Regions from separate parts of the Homo sapiens genome. Here region 2 is linked to region 1. Evidence: fine-mapped expression QTL. Tissue or cell type: whole blood. Region 1 holds a variant in brackets; the other region holds the start of a gene. All regions are shown on one strand. Distances are between the middles of the regions.

Evidence for each region. PIP is the estimated chance that this variant, and not a neighbour inherited with it, causes the effect.
Region 2: IQSEC3-AS2 starts here. The variant in region 1 is fine-mapped to the expression of IQSEC3-AS2 in whole blood (INTERVAL, PIP above 0.99).

The regions. Positions count from the first base shown.
Region 1 is chr12:83,024-91,126 of GRCh38, forward strand. The region is part of intron 1 of IQSEC3 (IQ motif and Sec7 domain ArfGEF 3); the gene reads left to right. Among named protein-coding and RNA genes, the nearest start is that of IQSEC3, 20 kb to the left of the region's middle. The variant G/A (reference allele first, on the strand shown) is at 4,716.
Region 2 is chr12:107,555-115,657 of GRCh38, forward strand. IQSEC3-AS2 (IQSEC3 antisense RNA 2) reads right to left here and starts at 4,207. Exons shown (of 2, transcript NR_184284.1): 1 at 4,065-4,207. The region is part of intron 2 of IQSEC3 (IQ motif and Sec7 domain ArfGEF 3); the gene reads left to right.

The sequences.
Region 1 (8,103 bases):
GATATATCAGCCTGGGCACACTCACTTATCGTCGCATACACCAGGGTTCACACCGGTGCTGTGGGTAATTAGGCTGGCTGAGGCTAGGGAAAAAATTAAAATGTGATGAGCTGGGCTGTACAGGAGAAAGGAGAGGAGGGCAGCTGAGCGTGGCATTGTCATTTAGGGATGGGAAATTCTGTTTAGGTTCCTCAAGGGCCAGAATCATATGTATACATTCATTTCACAAGTATTTGTTGAGCACCTACGGCATGTCAGGGGCACAGGGATTCGCGGTGAACAAGTCGAACAAAGCCCCTGCCGTCATGGAGCTCCCATTCCAGAGGAGAAGGCAGATATTTAACAAGAAAATTCACACACGTATAACAGAAATTCCCAAGGACTAGAAGAAAAGTACGGGGGTGGCTAGGGGGAGGATAGCTCTGAAGAGAAGTCCTCACTTAGGGGGTGGCATCTGAGCAGAGAGATGAAATAAAACAGAGCACGTGAAGACCTCAGGGGAAAGCGTTCCGTGTAAAGGCCCTGGGGCTGAAGGAAAGGCATGTGTTCAAAGAACAGAAGAAGGGAAGGGGGGCCAGAGGGGAGCAAGAGAGGGAGGAAAGAGACAGGGAGAGGAGATGGCATCACAGTGGGCCTTCTGAGGGAGTTTGTGGGGAGAGAGGTTGATGGGAAGGCGGGCGGGGGAGGAGGTGGGTTGAGAAGTGGAATGATGTGATCCACACTAGAAAACAGAGCTTAGGGGTTCAAAGGCAGAGAAGGGAGAGCAGTTCAGCAGGGAGCCCCGGAGCGCCGTGCACCCTTGTTTGGTGTCCACTCATTTATCCAACCTTCCTTTCAACCTCCACTTACTTGATTTCTGCTGTGTGCTCGACATTGCTGTGCATTTGTTATCTCATTTATCCACATGGTACTGACGGGAAGATATTACAGTCCCTACTTCACAGAGGCAAACTGAGGCTCAAAGAGGTTAAGGTGATCCACCCAGGGTCACACAGCTAAAGTGACATCTTCAGGATTCGTGTGTGAGCCTCTTACACCCTGGCATAGCTGTCCTCACTGTAAGAGGAGTCCCCTGTGGTGTGGGAAGTGCTTCCCCCAGGCAAAGCCTAATCTGGGACAGAGACCATTGTTCAGGAACAGAAAGGCTGGTGGCATCGTGCCCATATGACAGTTGTTCACGTTGCTGCAGCTCTGAATTTGGCCCGTGGCCCACTCATCTCAGTGCCCAGCCTGGCAGGACTGGGCTTGATGACTGGCAGAGTACCACCCACATGCAGCCACAAGATGAATGGTTTACAGGTCCCCATGGGACATCACATCCCTGCGTGGCCCATATGGTCAGGAGGGTTCACATAGTGGACAAAACATCCTTGTTCTCAGCTCTGCATGTGTGCGTGTATGCCTGCACATGTGTGCACGGGCAGGGTTGTATGTGAGAATATGTATGTGTGTATGTATGCATTTACAAATCCAGGAGTGTGCACACATGTGCAGGATGGTGTGTGCATAGGTTTGGGGCGTTTAGGACCTATGTGCATTGTTGTAAGAGCTCTGAATGAGTGCATGAAGGGAAGCCTGCATGTATATGTGTGTCCACCAAGAGGTACGGGTGTATGTTTGTGTGTACACATCTTTGTGCACCCAGGCAGGTGTGTATGAGTATGTTGAGCCTTTGGGTTTAGCAGATTCACCAGAAGCAAACAGCTGTTTTTGTGGGCATGTGATTGAGGTACCTGAGCAGTCTATGCTAGAAGGTCAGTTGAAGCTCTGGAATTGGGGATTGGCTGGGTAGGTTTTGATGTTTCTGTCAAACTTCAAGAGTCTGACTGTGCTATGAAGGGCAAGATCAAGGCTCTTCCACTCACAGCCCAGAGGCCACCTCCTCTGCAGATGCCTGGGGTCAGGGGGTACAGTGAGAATGGATGCCAGAAGCAGCGTGCAGCAAAAAAAGTCAGAGCTGTGGGTCCTCGGGAGGTCGTCAAACCTCCGTTAGCCTCAAATGGCATTAATAATAATAATGACATTAATTATCATTAGTATCATATTTTTCCATGGGATTACTCTTAGGATGTTCAGAAAGGTTTTTTAAATCAGAAACATGCATAAATGCAGTGTTGCTATTGGTCAGGACTTGCCTTCGCCATTCCTGGAGAAACACTGCGTGCCCACAGCTGACGAAAGGTGGGTTAGGAACGCTGTGGAGGCATGCTGCCCTGGCGCTGTGAGGCAGGACTTGGTGAGGAGCAGCCTCAGAGCCTGGCAGAGGCCCAATGGCTTTGATCCGTCCTTTCAAGCTGGCTTTGCCTAGCTGCCAGGCACCCATCTGCCAGGTAATACAGAGATCTCTTGTGAGGGAAGCTGGCAGGATGCAGCCACGGGCCCAGCTCTGCAATTCATGCTGTGCTGCCACGCCTGGCACTGGGAGCCCTCTTGGCTCCCTGCAAAGTCTGCTGGAGTTCAAAGAACTAGGCCTCAAGCTGGGCAACTAAATGGCTCTGGCATTTCTGACAGTGCCACCCTGCTGGGCAGGAAGAGAGACAGTGGCATGGAGCTCGAGGACTGACAGCAAGCTCTCACTGTTCTGGGGCTGGGCTGAGTGGCGGGGTGAGCATGGCCGAAAAGGAAGCTAGGGCCTCCTGGCATGCTCAAGTTACAGCCTGGGTTTCCTGTTCTGAGTTAAGCTCCCCCAAGACTGCCAGGTAGATGCCAAGGCTGTGATACTGAGCAAATATCTTAGACTCTCTGAGCCTCCTCATCTGTAAAATGAGGATTAGTTATAGAGATGTTGTACTGCCTTGAGCGTGTGTTGATACTGATGAGTAGGTCTGTGTCTCTAGCATGTGTTGTGCCTTTGTTTCCAGGCATGTGCATGTTTCATATATGTGCACACTTAATCCCCCATTTCTCTCCAGCACCCTTAGGAATCGGGATTTATTCACACATTCAGTCAACAAACCATTTCTGCTCTAAGCCATGTGCCAGGCTATGTTCTGTACTGGATGTAGAGATGAATTGGTCACAGGCATGGCTCTGGAAAACTCATTCTAGTATAGGGAGATATGACATGTATATAAACATCAGTGATACAGAGTGGAAAAAATAGATGTTGCATTCCACTAATGTCTCAGGGAAGCTGCTGAAGGAGTTCAGAGGTGGGCGCTTCCGGCCTAGGTGGGGCAGAGGCCAGCAGGGTTGGGGGTGAGCACAAAACAAACAAGGGAAGGCTTTGTGGGAGGAATGTCTTTGGCACTGGACTCTGAAGGCTGGGCAGATTCTGGATGTCTAGATTTCTGAGAAGCCTGGGATCACTGGCTGAGATGGCCATCACCTTTAGCCTATTTCCTAATTGTAACATGGTGGTATGGGTACAGGCTTTGCTGTCCCCATAATACTGTGAGGCTTTGGAGTGTGCGGTAATCGGGTCTGGGACAGTGAGGGCTTACTCATTGGACCAGGCTCAGATCTAAGCATTTTAGATCTGTTAGCTCATTTGCTCATCACAATAAGCCTTCGAGATAGATGCTGTCCATATCCTATTTTATGAGTAAGGAAACTGAGGCTCAGTCAGGCAAAGATATTAACAGGAAAATAGCAAAGACGGACTTTGAACTCCAGACAGCTCCTGCCTACCCCATATCAGCGCACGGCCTAGTACAAGCATTTTTGTGTGTGTGTGCCTGCTCTGTGCTAGGTATTGTACTAAGCACAACACAGGTATCTTGTTTGACCTTCACAACAACCTGATGAGGTCATTTCTTGTATGACCTCCCTTTTACAGTTCAGGAGACCGAGGCTGAAGAAGATCAGATAATCTGCCTGTGATTCCACACCCATCTTTTGGAAGGGCAAGGATGCTATGCAGGTCTTCCCAGATCCTTAGATCTGGGAAGGCCTACAGCTCTCCGTGAAATTGTGCTCTCTCCTGTGGTTCTAGAAAGGGCCTCCATGAAATTCCTTCCCCAAAGTGTTCTGTGGCTCCCTCTCAGCTATATGCAGGTGCACTCCTAGGACCAGAGGCAAATAACCAACAACATGCTGTGAGAGCTACCTCAAAACTCAAAATAACAAAACAGATCTCTGTTTTGCTCAGAAATCTGTAGTTTTGGCAGAGCTTATTGGGGACAGCTTTTTTCTGTTCTGCATCATATCTGCTAGAGGGGCTTGGAGGATGGAGGTTCATTATCAGGATGGTCATCAAGCGGCTGTCAAGCTGGGGATGGCTGTTTGTTCCTTTCCATGCACGCCTCTCCATGGAGTCATTTGGGCTTCCTCCCAGCATGAAGGCTGATTTCCTCTCATCACCATGCAAAAAAAGTACTAGGAAAACCAGGGCAGAACACTTCTCTGAAAGTCATGGGAGGGGAGTGTTTCAAATAGGGAGATTTGGGCCAACGTATGCTACAGAAAAGTGAAGTCAGACGCTGAGAAGTTCTTAGATTTGGCAACTAAGAGATCACTAGGGACCTCCCTAGATTAAATTCTGCTAGGCCTCTGGGGGAAGAACCCAGATGACAGCAAGTTGGCAAGAGATCAAGGTGAAAGGAAGCTCACACAAGCAGACAACTCTTTTTGGAAGACTGACTGCAGAAGGAAAGAGTTGTAACCAGGGGAGCAGAGTTGTAGGGAATAATCATGGTTTTAGGATGAGAGATTTGAGCATGTTTATATGCTGAAGAAAAAGGGCCTATGAAAATAATGACACTGAAGACCAGTGG[G/A]GGAGGAAAGGGGGTAAAGAGCGATAGGGCTTGGAGGGAAGGCAAACAGCTCTTCCTTGAGATCAAAGGTATCAGAAGTAGGACACATTCATAACAGCTACCATGTATTAGCCGTGTTCTGTTGTAAGGGCTTTCAAAGTGTTTTAACTCATTTCATCCTTATACAGTCCTTTAAAAAAGTTCTGTTGTATACGTGCGGTTAGGTAGGATTCCTCAGGAAGGATTCCCGCAGGCTTCACCGAAAGGAGGACTATGGCGGGCCCTTGCAGGGAGGGGCACGCAGCACCTCTCTAAGGCCAGCATGACTGGACACGGCAGAGCTGGCTTCCCGAAGCAGCAGGAGGGCTTCGGGTTAGAAGCATGTTTTCTCAGCTGTTTCTTAAAAAAGGAAACTTATTTTTTTCAAAATTAAACCTAACAGATATTCCTAAGACATAAAACTAACCAAATCAGAGCTTCATTAGTTGAATGGAAGGTTCTGTGCTCTGCCTTCTCCATTCTCCTCTTAACCTTAATAAGGTCCCTGCAGCAGCTGGTGGGGCACTGGGCCTCTTCGGAGTACAACAGAAAAAACACTGAGTTACTGCAAGACCAAACTCATACTCTTTTATGAACATCTGAAAAACGTACAGTGTGTTTTTAGGAAAAACCTCACTGAATAATAAAGGGGCAGGTCACTGTTTTCCTAGGACTCTGTTATCCTTCTTTTCCTTGATGGCAGAGGCATGGACTAGAAGAACGTCAAAGCTCCCCCAAAGAAAAGTGAGCAGAGAATCAAAGAGAAGCAAGTCCTGGAGAGCAGGGGGTCCCTGTGGAGATTCCATCCTCTGGCAGGCTTGGGGCAGAACACTGAACCTGGTTGGCCAACCTGGGTCTGGATACCAACAGGCCAATGTTTTCTACAGCCTTTTGCCCCGGCTTCTGGAACAGCTGTAACTGCTTGCCTTATTAAGATCTTCCCAAAGCTCTCTGTGGAAGACTGTACAGTGGTAGATTGCACCAGTGAGCAAAGGAAATCTACCTCTCCCTCCACAGCCCCCAGGCCTGCAGAAGAAAATAGGGACCAGAAAGAAGGAAGTCAAGATGGCATCCTGGTAGGGCTCTGTTTGAAAGAGAATTGTGGTTGCTGAGTTTCTCAGTAGCAGAGACTAATAATATCAGTAATATTCATTATAAGGTTTTGCATTTGTGCAGGGTTTATTATGTTTCTCTCAAGGTAGTTTCATATTCAAGTCTTGCTTGAATATGAATCCCCCACAGTTCAGTAAAATAAATAAGGCAGGTGTAGGAGCCTTGTTTACCATGACCTGACCCTCCCAAAGGTGAGCATAGAGTAGGGGCTGGGTCTGCATCTCCAGCCCAGAGCTGTTTCTATCAAACCTTCTAGGGACTCTCAGTCCTTAGGCCCAGGCCCCAAATTTCCCCCATTCAGCCATCCCCACCCCCAATTTTCTCATTGTCCCAGTTTCTGGCCCCCTGGACTCCTTTGGCTCAGTGATGAACCATCTAGTCTCTGAAAATACAATCTAGCAGTTGAAAGGAAAGAAAAATATAATGTCTTTTTCTACTGCTTGGAAGGGGGTTAATCATTAGGTGATCTGGGGGCAATGGGTGGAGGGAAATTAGAAAGGAAATTATTCTAAAGCCTCTTGATAAAATAGCAAGAAATGAGAAGGAAGAGGAAAAGATTTTGGTCTTTTTTCTTTTTAAAAATCAGTTGGATTAAGCTAAAATTAGATACAATAAAATTCAGCCGTTTTACATGTATAACTTGATGAGTTTTGAAACATTACACTTGTGTAACAACTATCTCAGTCAAGATACAAACATTTTCATCAGCCAAGTGACCCTTTGTTCCCTCTTACAGTTCATCCCTTCCTTCCTGCATTGCTGAAACTTACCTCTGTCAATATAGTTGTGTCTTTTCTAGAATATTATATAAGTGGAATCATACAATATGGAGTCTTTTGTGGACACCTTCCTTTATTTAATACAACGTTTATGAAATTCATCCATGTTGGCTGATGTATCAGTAAGCATGTTCCTTTTTATTGCTGAATAGTATTACATTGAATGGACATACCACAATTTATCCATTTGCCAGTTAGTGGACATTTACATTGTTTCTGGGTGGTTTTTTACATACATGAATAGTTTCGTATCAGTATAACTTTTTGTTTATCTTGGGTAAATACCTAGGAATGCAATTGGAAGGGTATATGATAAATGTATGTTTAACTTTAGAAGAAACTGCAAGACTGTTTTCCAAAGTGTGGCACTATTTTGCATTCCTTTCAGAGGTGTATGAGAGTTCCAGGTGCTCCGCACCCTTGTCAACACTCGGTTTTGTCAGACACAGATTTTATTCATTCTAGTGGGTGTGTAATAGTATCTGCTTGTGGTTTTAATTGGCAATTCCCTAATGACTAGTGATGTTGAAGATCTTGTCGTGTGCTTGTTTGTCCTTAGTATATTTCCTTTGGAGAAGTGTCTGTTCAAATCTCTTGTACATTTTCCTATCAGGTTGTTTGTCTTTTTATTATTGAGTTGTAGCAGTTCTTCAAAGAGAAAAATTGATGTACCTTTTTCATTTCAATGAAGGCTAACTTAGCAATTTTTTTGTTTCGTGGCTTGTGCTTTCTGGTCCTATCTATGAAATCTTTGCATATCCTAAAGCCACATATTATCTTCTATATTTTCTTTGAGATGTGTTATGGTTTTATCTGTTATTTTAAGTCTATGATCTATTTTTTAAATTTTTATGTATGGCATAAGGCATGGATTGAAGTCTATTTTTTTGCATCTGGATATCCAGTTGTTTCAGCACTATCTGTTAAAAAGTTTATCATTCCTTTTTGAATGCCTTGGTACTTTTACCAAGGGTCAATTTATGATATATGTATGGATCTATTTCTGGCTTCTCTTTTTGTTCAATCTGTGTGTCTATTCTTATGCCACCACTGCACCATCTTAATTATGGTAGCTTCATTTTCAGTCTTGAAACCATCCAGTGAAGTCCTACAACTTGTTCTTGTTTTTCAAAGTTGTTTTGGCTATCCCCTCCTCCTCCTCACCCCAGGAATCAGAGGTTTCTGAAAAAATAAGGGTTTCTTTTCTTCCTATTTATTAAGTTTAAATAGAAAAGGCTCTTTGGAGGAGGTGAGAAAATTAAGAGAAAGTGGAAAAAAATCCAGTCTGCAGGCTCCACCAGCAGTAGTGATGGTGGTACCAAGATGGGTGGGGATGGGGCAGGTGACCAGAAGCAATTTTATGATTTCTCCCTTCTCCTGGAGCTCAAGGCAGCTCCTTTAGAGAGGTTCCCTGGCTGTTTCCTTCTGAAGGCTGGGGATTCAGTCTGCTATCCTCAGCTTGGTGAAGGGAGGGGGAT
Region 2 (8,103 bases), 25 kb after region 1:
GCCCGCCACCGTGCCCGGCTAATTTTTTTGTATTTTTAGTAGAGACGGGGTTTCACTGTGTTAGCCAGGATGGTCTCGATCTCCTGACCTCGTGATCCGCCCACCTCGGCCTCCCAAAGTGCTGGGATTACAGGCGTGAGCCACCGCGCCCGGCCGGTAGTCTGTTTTCTAACTACCTTTTTGTTTATTCTCTGGCAGGTCACATAACACCCACACACTTGTTTAACAAGGGTGTAGATCCCTATACACCCGTAATTCTTGAGTATTGCATCACACATGGCCTGGGGACCCCAGTGACCTCCCTTACAGAGTATGGATATCAGTTCTCTCCTTGTGAGTTTGCTTATCATTTCGGTCCCATCAGGGAGCACCCACCTCCCATCCTCAGTTTGAGTGGCCCTATCTTGCCCAGCTCTTCCTCCTCCTCTTCAGAAAGTTGGGGTTTTAATACCACCTTAGGGATATCTGGGATTAGGCCAAATAGTTTAACTTCTACCTCCAGGGAGGCTGCTTAGCAGCTTTATCCACAAGCCTGTTCCCTAACCCTAACCCTAACCCTAACCCTAACCCTAGCTTCTATAGAGTTTCCTTTCTGATGGCCGTTTACATGAACTATGGCTACCTCTGCTGGAAGCAGGAGGCTTTTTAAAACTTGTTTGACCAGTTTCCCATATACCAATTCTTTCTACCTGCTATTTATTAGGCTCCACTTTGTCCAGATCTTTCCAAAGGTGTGTACTACTCCATAGGCATATCTGGAAATAGCATATACAGTGCCTTCTTGGCCTTATATGAGCTTCAGGGCTTGGTTAAGAGCATGTAATTCACAGGTTTGGGCTGAGCAGTTATTGGGTAATCTACCTTTTTCTCATAAGGTTTGTTTGTTTCCATCAATGACAGCCTGGACATTGTGTCTTTTACCATCTATCACTCAGGATGGCCTATTCACAAACAGCCTCATTCCATCGAGTAGTGGAATTTCTTTAAGGTCTGGTCTAACTTTGGTTTGATATTCTATCATATGTAAACAGTTATGGTCTGATACCTGCTTATTCTCCTCTCATTTCCGTAAGAAACTGACTGGAGTTCATTTAGGCGCCTTTCCAGGGCCCACTGACCCCAGGAGGAACTTGAGGAGGCAAGGGGCTGACCAGCTGGCCTTTCAGGGTGTCTTTAGCCGGGCTCTGCCGGGTCTGGCTCTGGGCCAACAGCTGCTGGTTTGAAGAGCTGCCAGCCTGTGGTGCCTTCCCTGATGGGCACTCTCATCAGCAAAGGCATCCCTGGCTCCTTCTTTGCTTTGAAGGCACCATCCGTCTCCCTGGCAGGCCGAGAGCTGCACTGTTTGTATTCCACGCCACCCCTGCTGGTGACCCAGCAACTGCAAAGGGTCCCAGGTTTGTCCCGCTCTGGGAGGGGACTTGGTGGCTTTTCGTCAGCTGCAAGGGTCGCCCCTTGGCCCAGCCCAGCTCTGGGAAACAGAACTTTTATACACCCCACCTCAAAGCATCCTGGCGGACTTCTCCCCAGCACGCGCTCTCTCTACTTCAGGGATTGCAAACTGGCATTTTCTATCACCTGTATTGGGTTATTAAGTTTTTTTAACTGATCACCAGCATTTAAAAATCCTGTTTCACATAAAAAGTCAGAATTCTGGCCTCTGACAAAGCAGACAGTCTGGCAACACAGGGCTGGCACTGTGAGAACAGTCGAGCAGCTGCAGAGGTGTGCCCTCTTCAGTTAGCCACAGTCCCCATCCAGCCCTGCAGCCCTCCTTCTCACCATTTGCTGGCCGTGTTGTCCTTTGAGTTTATAACCCTAGTTCGGATCTTCCTTATGTAGCCCCCCGGCCTCTCTGCAGCCTTACTGACGGCTGCCCCTGGTGGACTCACAGCCTCTCAGTGAAACAGCAGCAAACCTTAATGCTCATCTCATCCACTCACCCTTCCACATCCTGAACCCTTTCTACACCCTCCTGACAAACAGCCATCTAGTCTTTGCCGTACGCAACCCACTATTCCTCAGGCAGCCTGATCCTAAACTCTCCTCCACATCCCCTTCTCACTTGCATCCCCCAGTTCCCGGACCCTGTCCCTCCTCAGTGGCCGCACTGCACCCTTTCCCAGCACCTCCTTGTTGCTTGAGCCTCTAGAACCTTCCCCCAGCCCTGCCAACCTCTCCACATCCTCTCACTTCCTCTTGTACTCTTTCTTCCTTTTGCATTATTTTTCTCCCCAGTCTTAACTTTGGTGTCTCTCTTTGATCTGTCTTTTCCAGTCTCTTGCTCTCGCTCGTTTTCTTTTTCTATCTATCTCTATCATCCTGTTTCCTTTTTCCCTCACACTTAGTTTCTTTCTCTTTCTCTCTCTGGGCACAAGCTAAACTGTGCTGGGCCCTGGCCCCTGACAATCTGCAAAGATGGACAGCTCTGTCGAAACAACAAAGATTCAGCAACAACTTTTATCAACAGCTTTCAGCAGCCAGCTTCCACACACAGTTGTGTGGCCGCCTCTCCCTTGCCTTCAGGGTCAGCAGCTTAACTCTTTCTCTCTCTGGCCCTCTATGTTTGCCATTTCCTCCCCTTTGTCTTTCCAATTTTCTTTTTTACTTTTTCTCTTTCTCCCTTTTCCAGTTTCTCTTTTCTTTCTTCTTACAAAAACCTTCTGAGCTTCCCTCAGTAATTCCTTAATCGGTTTTTCATTCCACCTATCAATCTTTTGCAGTTTCTTAGTAATATCAGGCCAGCTTTTGTCACAGAACTAAGTCCTAAAAGGCCTTGCCCTACTGGGTGCTCTGGACCTAATCCTGAATATTTTCTTATTTGATCCCTGAGCCTCTGCAGAAATGCGGAGGGAGTCTTCTCTTTTTATTGTTGGATCTCGAATGCTTTCAAGACATTTTGTGTTCTAAGAGTGGACTTTTTAATCCCTTTAATTATTAGTTCCCTTGGGTCCTGCACTGGGGCCTGATCTCTGAGGTTATTGTTATCCCCTCTGGGATTTGCATTTGGGAATTTCTGCTCAGCTGGCAGGACTCCTTACCCGGGAGAATGGGGTCTCTCCCAAATGGTCATGGCTGCCCTTATAATCATTCCCCTCTCTTCCCCAGGAAACAGAATATTTATGATTGACATTATCTTAGCCCAAGTATAAAAATGGGGTCATAAAAATTGATCTAGCTGCTCTGCTAAACCGAGGGGGTCTTCCCAGAGTGGCCTCATTTTCTTTTTAGAATTCTGAACCTCAGTACTTGCTAGAGGCACACTCACAAACCCAACAAACCCAACTCCTCTCTGTCCCGTAGAGACTTCTCTAAGAGGGTACCTGTTAGACATCTGCTGTTTAGAAGGAACGGGGAAATTCTCAATGTCCTTCTTACATTGTTCTAATTCTTTCCTCTAGTTTGGATAAGGATTTAAGGAAGCATTGGGTTTAGCTTCTTCGTGACCCCCCGATTCCTCTTCCTCCGACCTTCTTGCTGCCCCCCGATCGCCCTGTTCTGTTCTTCCTGAGATGTATGGGGGGGCAAGCGTGTTAGGGGATCCCAGGGCTTTTCATTGGGTGAGGGCTTTTTACTATGCTCTTTTTCTTCTTTTTAAAGGGGAACATGGGGGTTAATTCACTAATCCAACAAAGAGCATAACCTGTCTCCTCTCGTGAGGATGGAGTTTTATTATTCACAGAAAATTAAAGCTTGGCACACCCAATCCTCATCTGAGCCAAACTCAGGCCAAAAGACCAAAGGTTGACGAATGGGCTTTTTGGGCCAGATAAAACAACAAACTTTATCATCTTTTGCTTTTCCTTGTCCCTGGTTTGAGGACTATCCCTTCAAACCTGCAGCATTCTCCCCAGCGGACTATTTGGGGGAATGTCAGAAGGGTTCTCTTTAGTTCCCTCTTTCCTCTGTTCTCTAGGCCTAGAATTCTTGTTTCCCATTTTTGGTTAGTCTCTGTGTCTGAGCTTTTCCCTGTGTACTCAGCCTCCCTTACTGGAGGTTTCTTACACACCCCAAGACCTCCGAAAATGCACAACTACCAAGCAGTACTTACAGATCAATTTTCCTACCTTGGCTCATGCGTGAGGTTGCCTGGTTGCCTGCTTTTCTCCCTGTGTCACTTTAGTTGTCTCCTGAATAACAGTTTCAGGTTTGTCTATGGCTTCTTCGGGGAGCTGAGACACCTGGACAGAGTGGGCCACACAAATCGAGTGGGACACATCTCCCCTGTCAGCTGGAGTCTCACTCCATGCAGGCATGGAAATCCCCATATGGGCCACCAGGTTGTGAGAAACAGACTCACCCGTCCAAACCCAAAGAATGGACTCAGAGACCCAGAGAACAGCGAAAGTGAGACTTGTGATGACGGTCTTGCAAAATCGGGTGTCTCTTGAGCAGGCACACCCAGCACAGTTTCAACAAGCAGTTTATCCCCTAGTGCACAGGTCTCTCCCCTGGTTCCTCATAGGCTGAGTATTATGGGTTACAATCTTCCCGGATGATGCCTGTTCATTGCTGGGCAGGGGCTGTAGGTGGTTTTTTAGGGTTGTTTTGCTCCATTTTGTTGCAGCCCACAATGCATTGCAATCCTAGCTAGCTCAGGGGCTCATAAAGTATTTGATTTATGACCGAAGTAGCTGGGCAGGCTGATAAGAACAAACAAAATGAACTATTTTGTAGGCTAGTAAACTTTCATCTTAGACTAAACTTCTTTGGTTCGGGGAGGGCAACTAAGGAGTGGGGAAGTGGGGGGAAGGGGGATGGTGGGGAAGTGGGGGAGGCCGAGAAGCAGGCATCAGCTATCCAAGCAGGGGCCTAGTGTATCCTGTTTCTTCTGTAGTTTGCTGACCTAAGCCAATTCAGGCACTTCATCCTGGAAATGGCCCACTGTATACATTATTTCCTTCAAAGAGCCAGGGGAGTAAGAGAAAGTGTCGTGTGACCTAGAAGCTTGGGATTTGGAAGGGAGCCGAGGGGAAGGGCAGACCCAGGCAGCACCTGGGCTTCCAGAAGAAGCTGGTGCTTCCACCACACTGACCTAGACAAGGCACAAGGCATCCCCCTCTTCTCTGGGCCCCAGCTTCCTCAACCATAGCATGAGGGGTTGCACTGTCTAATCCCCAAGGCCCTCTACCAGGGATTCTGTAAGAAGGCATTCTGCATGGCCAGGGATGGGACCTGCTCATGGAGAGACCCAGGGCAATTGCAAAGCAAAACAAATGGCAGGTGGTGGGGTGCGAATGTTGACCCTCTGGTGAAATGCAGTATTGGAGCAAAAGAGCATGGCAAGGGAAGCCCTCTGTAGGCCTGTGCACTGTTTTTTTTCCTACATTTCACTTATTATTGTAAAAATATTATCATAATATTTTATTATTAATATTTATTATTATTATTTTGAAACAAGGCAGTTTCAAAAAGGAGAAGAATTTCACCCCACTCATAGTCCTGCAGAGGATCGCCTCTCATTGTCCCTCTTCTCCATTCGTCTTGGGCAGTGCGGCCTGGACACTGGGAAGTGCCCCCGGAATGCCACGGGGAACAGCCTGGCCCCCACTTCCTTCCCTCCATGCTGGCAGCTCTTAGCGTTTATCCTGGGCTTGGATGCAGTTTCTTGCACTCCAAGGACAGAAATGATAGGAATGATGAGGGTTTTAACAACCAGCATCGATACTGCATTTTCCGAGTTACAGAACTCCTTCTGTCCTTCTGCTTACTTGATTCTCACCACAAGGATCCTCAGCCTCTGACCTTGTAAACAGTCAGAAGGGCAAGAATCACTGTGTCCATTTTACAGCTGAGGAAATACTCGGAGAAGATAAGCAACTTGTTGAAGGTCACAAAGGTAGAAGCAGGCAGAGGTTAAGACCAGAGCCTATGCAAAGAGAGGGCAACAGTGGAGCAGAGGCTTTAAACCTGCTTCTTCCTTGTTCCTGTTTGAATGTGTCACCTTGCTCACTCCCCAGGTGCCACTGCCACACGGCCTGGTGGGATCTTGGTGTGGTCACCATGTTCCATGTTTATACTGAAGCTTTGAAGTCTTGGAGAATCAATTAGGCTGCCATGAGTCCTCAGATTCCTCAGGAATCGAGGGAACTGACTCATCAGAAACAAACTCATAAGAGACTGACATATCATATTAGTATGAATTTACGAATTTGTAATGAGAAACTGTCCTGATGAACAGGATACTCATGTTTACTGATCACTGAAGAACTTAAAAATAGCGAAGGTCCCTTCCCTCCCCAGGTGCAGAGGAATGAGCACCACATGGTTTTGTGGATTCCTTTCTAGCTTGGAAAGAGAAAGAGAGAGGCGAGGAAGTGGCAAAGGAGTTCCCTGGACTAGAAGATAAATTCAGAACTTCAGGGAATCACTGTAATGTGTGGCACTTGAAAGCATAAACCAGATAATTCAAATCTAGGTTCAGGTCCTGGCTTGGCCACTCACAAACTCTATGACCTTGGTTAAATTCCATAAGCTTTCCAACCTTGAGTTAACTCATCTGTAAAAGGAGCATAGCACTTAACTTCTTAGGGTGTTTGGCAGGATTAAATGTGATAATGCCTGGAAAGGTGTCCAGCATCTAGTAAGGACTGCATACGTGCTAGCTATGTTAAAGCTGGATTTTCGAGGGCAGAGAGGGAGAACTCAAACAAGATTTAAGGTCTAGAAATTCAGATATGACTAGGGAATGTTTAGAAAGTACAGGCCACATGCTTCATGTGATGAGCCTCTGCTATGGCAAGCATGTTCTTCAGGTTCCAAGCATGTTGTTCAGACACACCTCAGGGACCTGAACAACATGCTTGCCATACCAGGGGCTCTGGCAAGGTCTAGTCCGTCCCATGGGATAGCAGGTGTTGGGCGTGGAGAAGAGGCAGTCTTTCAGATGTTTCTGTTCAGGCCCAGCTCCTGACATGGAGTGGTGGCAGGATAGAGCCGAATATTCAAAAAGAGAGAAAGAGAGAGACTCTGAGAACTGAAGGACAAATTTGGGGAAGAGATCAAAGAAGCTAAAGACCCGGATGAATGTCAATCAAGTAGGGCCAACAGGCTCAGAGAGGAGATTTTCTAGACATCAGGGCAGGAGAGGAAATGATTTAACTCAGCAACAGGCTGCCACAGTGAAGACTGGGATGGGATTAAGATCGGAAGCATTTATTTTATCAGCCAACAGTTTGACTGCCTGTTCTCCTGAGAGAAGATTGTTTATCCCAACAGGGAAAGGCTTATGGCCTGGCACTGTCCCCTGGCCTGCCCCATGGGGTATTCCCCATGCCAGGATCTCTAAGGCTTCTTCCAAAGTGTGTCCTGCAGAGACAGTGAGCAGATATTCCATTGTCACACATACAGCAGGAGCCTAGCACGTCCCTTCCTCTTAACACTTGCAGAGATAACACATGGAAGCCACAAGGCATGCGGGAAACAGTGTGGCCAATCTGATATGTGCAGCATGAAAGCCTGGAGCTAGATATCAGGTAGGACTTCCAGTAGGACCACTGAAGATAAGGACGTTAACTGCAGGGAAACAAGTGGGGAATCTTGCTCCCTGGTAACTAGCTAAATGTCCAGAGCAATGTCCTACCCTACTGGTAATTCTGCCATTTCCATTTCTTGGGTCACAAGACTCCTGTTTTCAGCAAGAATGCACCTGACCTCCACAGGCACCTGTAGGTCATCAGATTTCCTCTGGCATGTGGTAAACTTGGGCCTGTGAGGAGCTGTTCTTCCCTGGAAATAGCTCAGGACCCAAGAAACATGTGCTCTGCTGGGGTGAAGTAGGGCTGACCTGGGTTGGAACAGAAGGAAGATGGAATGAAGGGGCTTTAGAGCCAAGAGAATATGAAACACCCAGGCATGGCCTCATGCCTGCCTCTGGTATGGGCTTTATGCACACATGATTTGTGTGGGTCACCATAACAGGGCTCCGCGAGGGAGCTAGAAAGAATGAGACAAGGTCCCTGCTCTCCAGGGAGCAATTAGCTCATGAACCGGAAGCTGGGGATGCATAAAGGGCCCAGATTAGGGGAGAATAGCCACAGTTACCAAGCATCAAGTAGATGCCATAGGCTTCGTGTAGATTATTTCACTCACTCTCACAGCAAAATC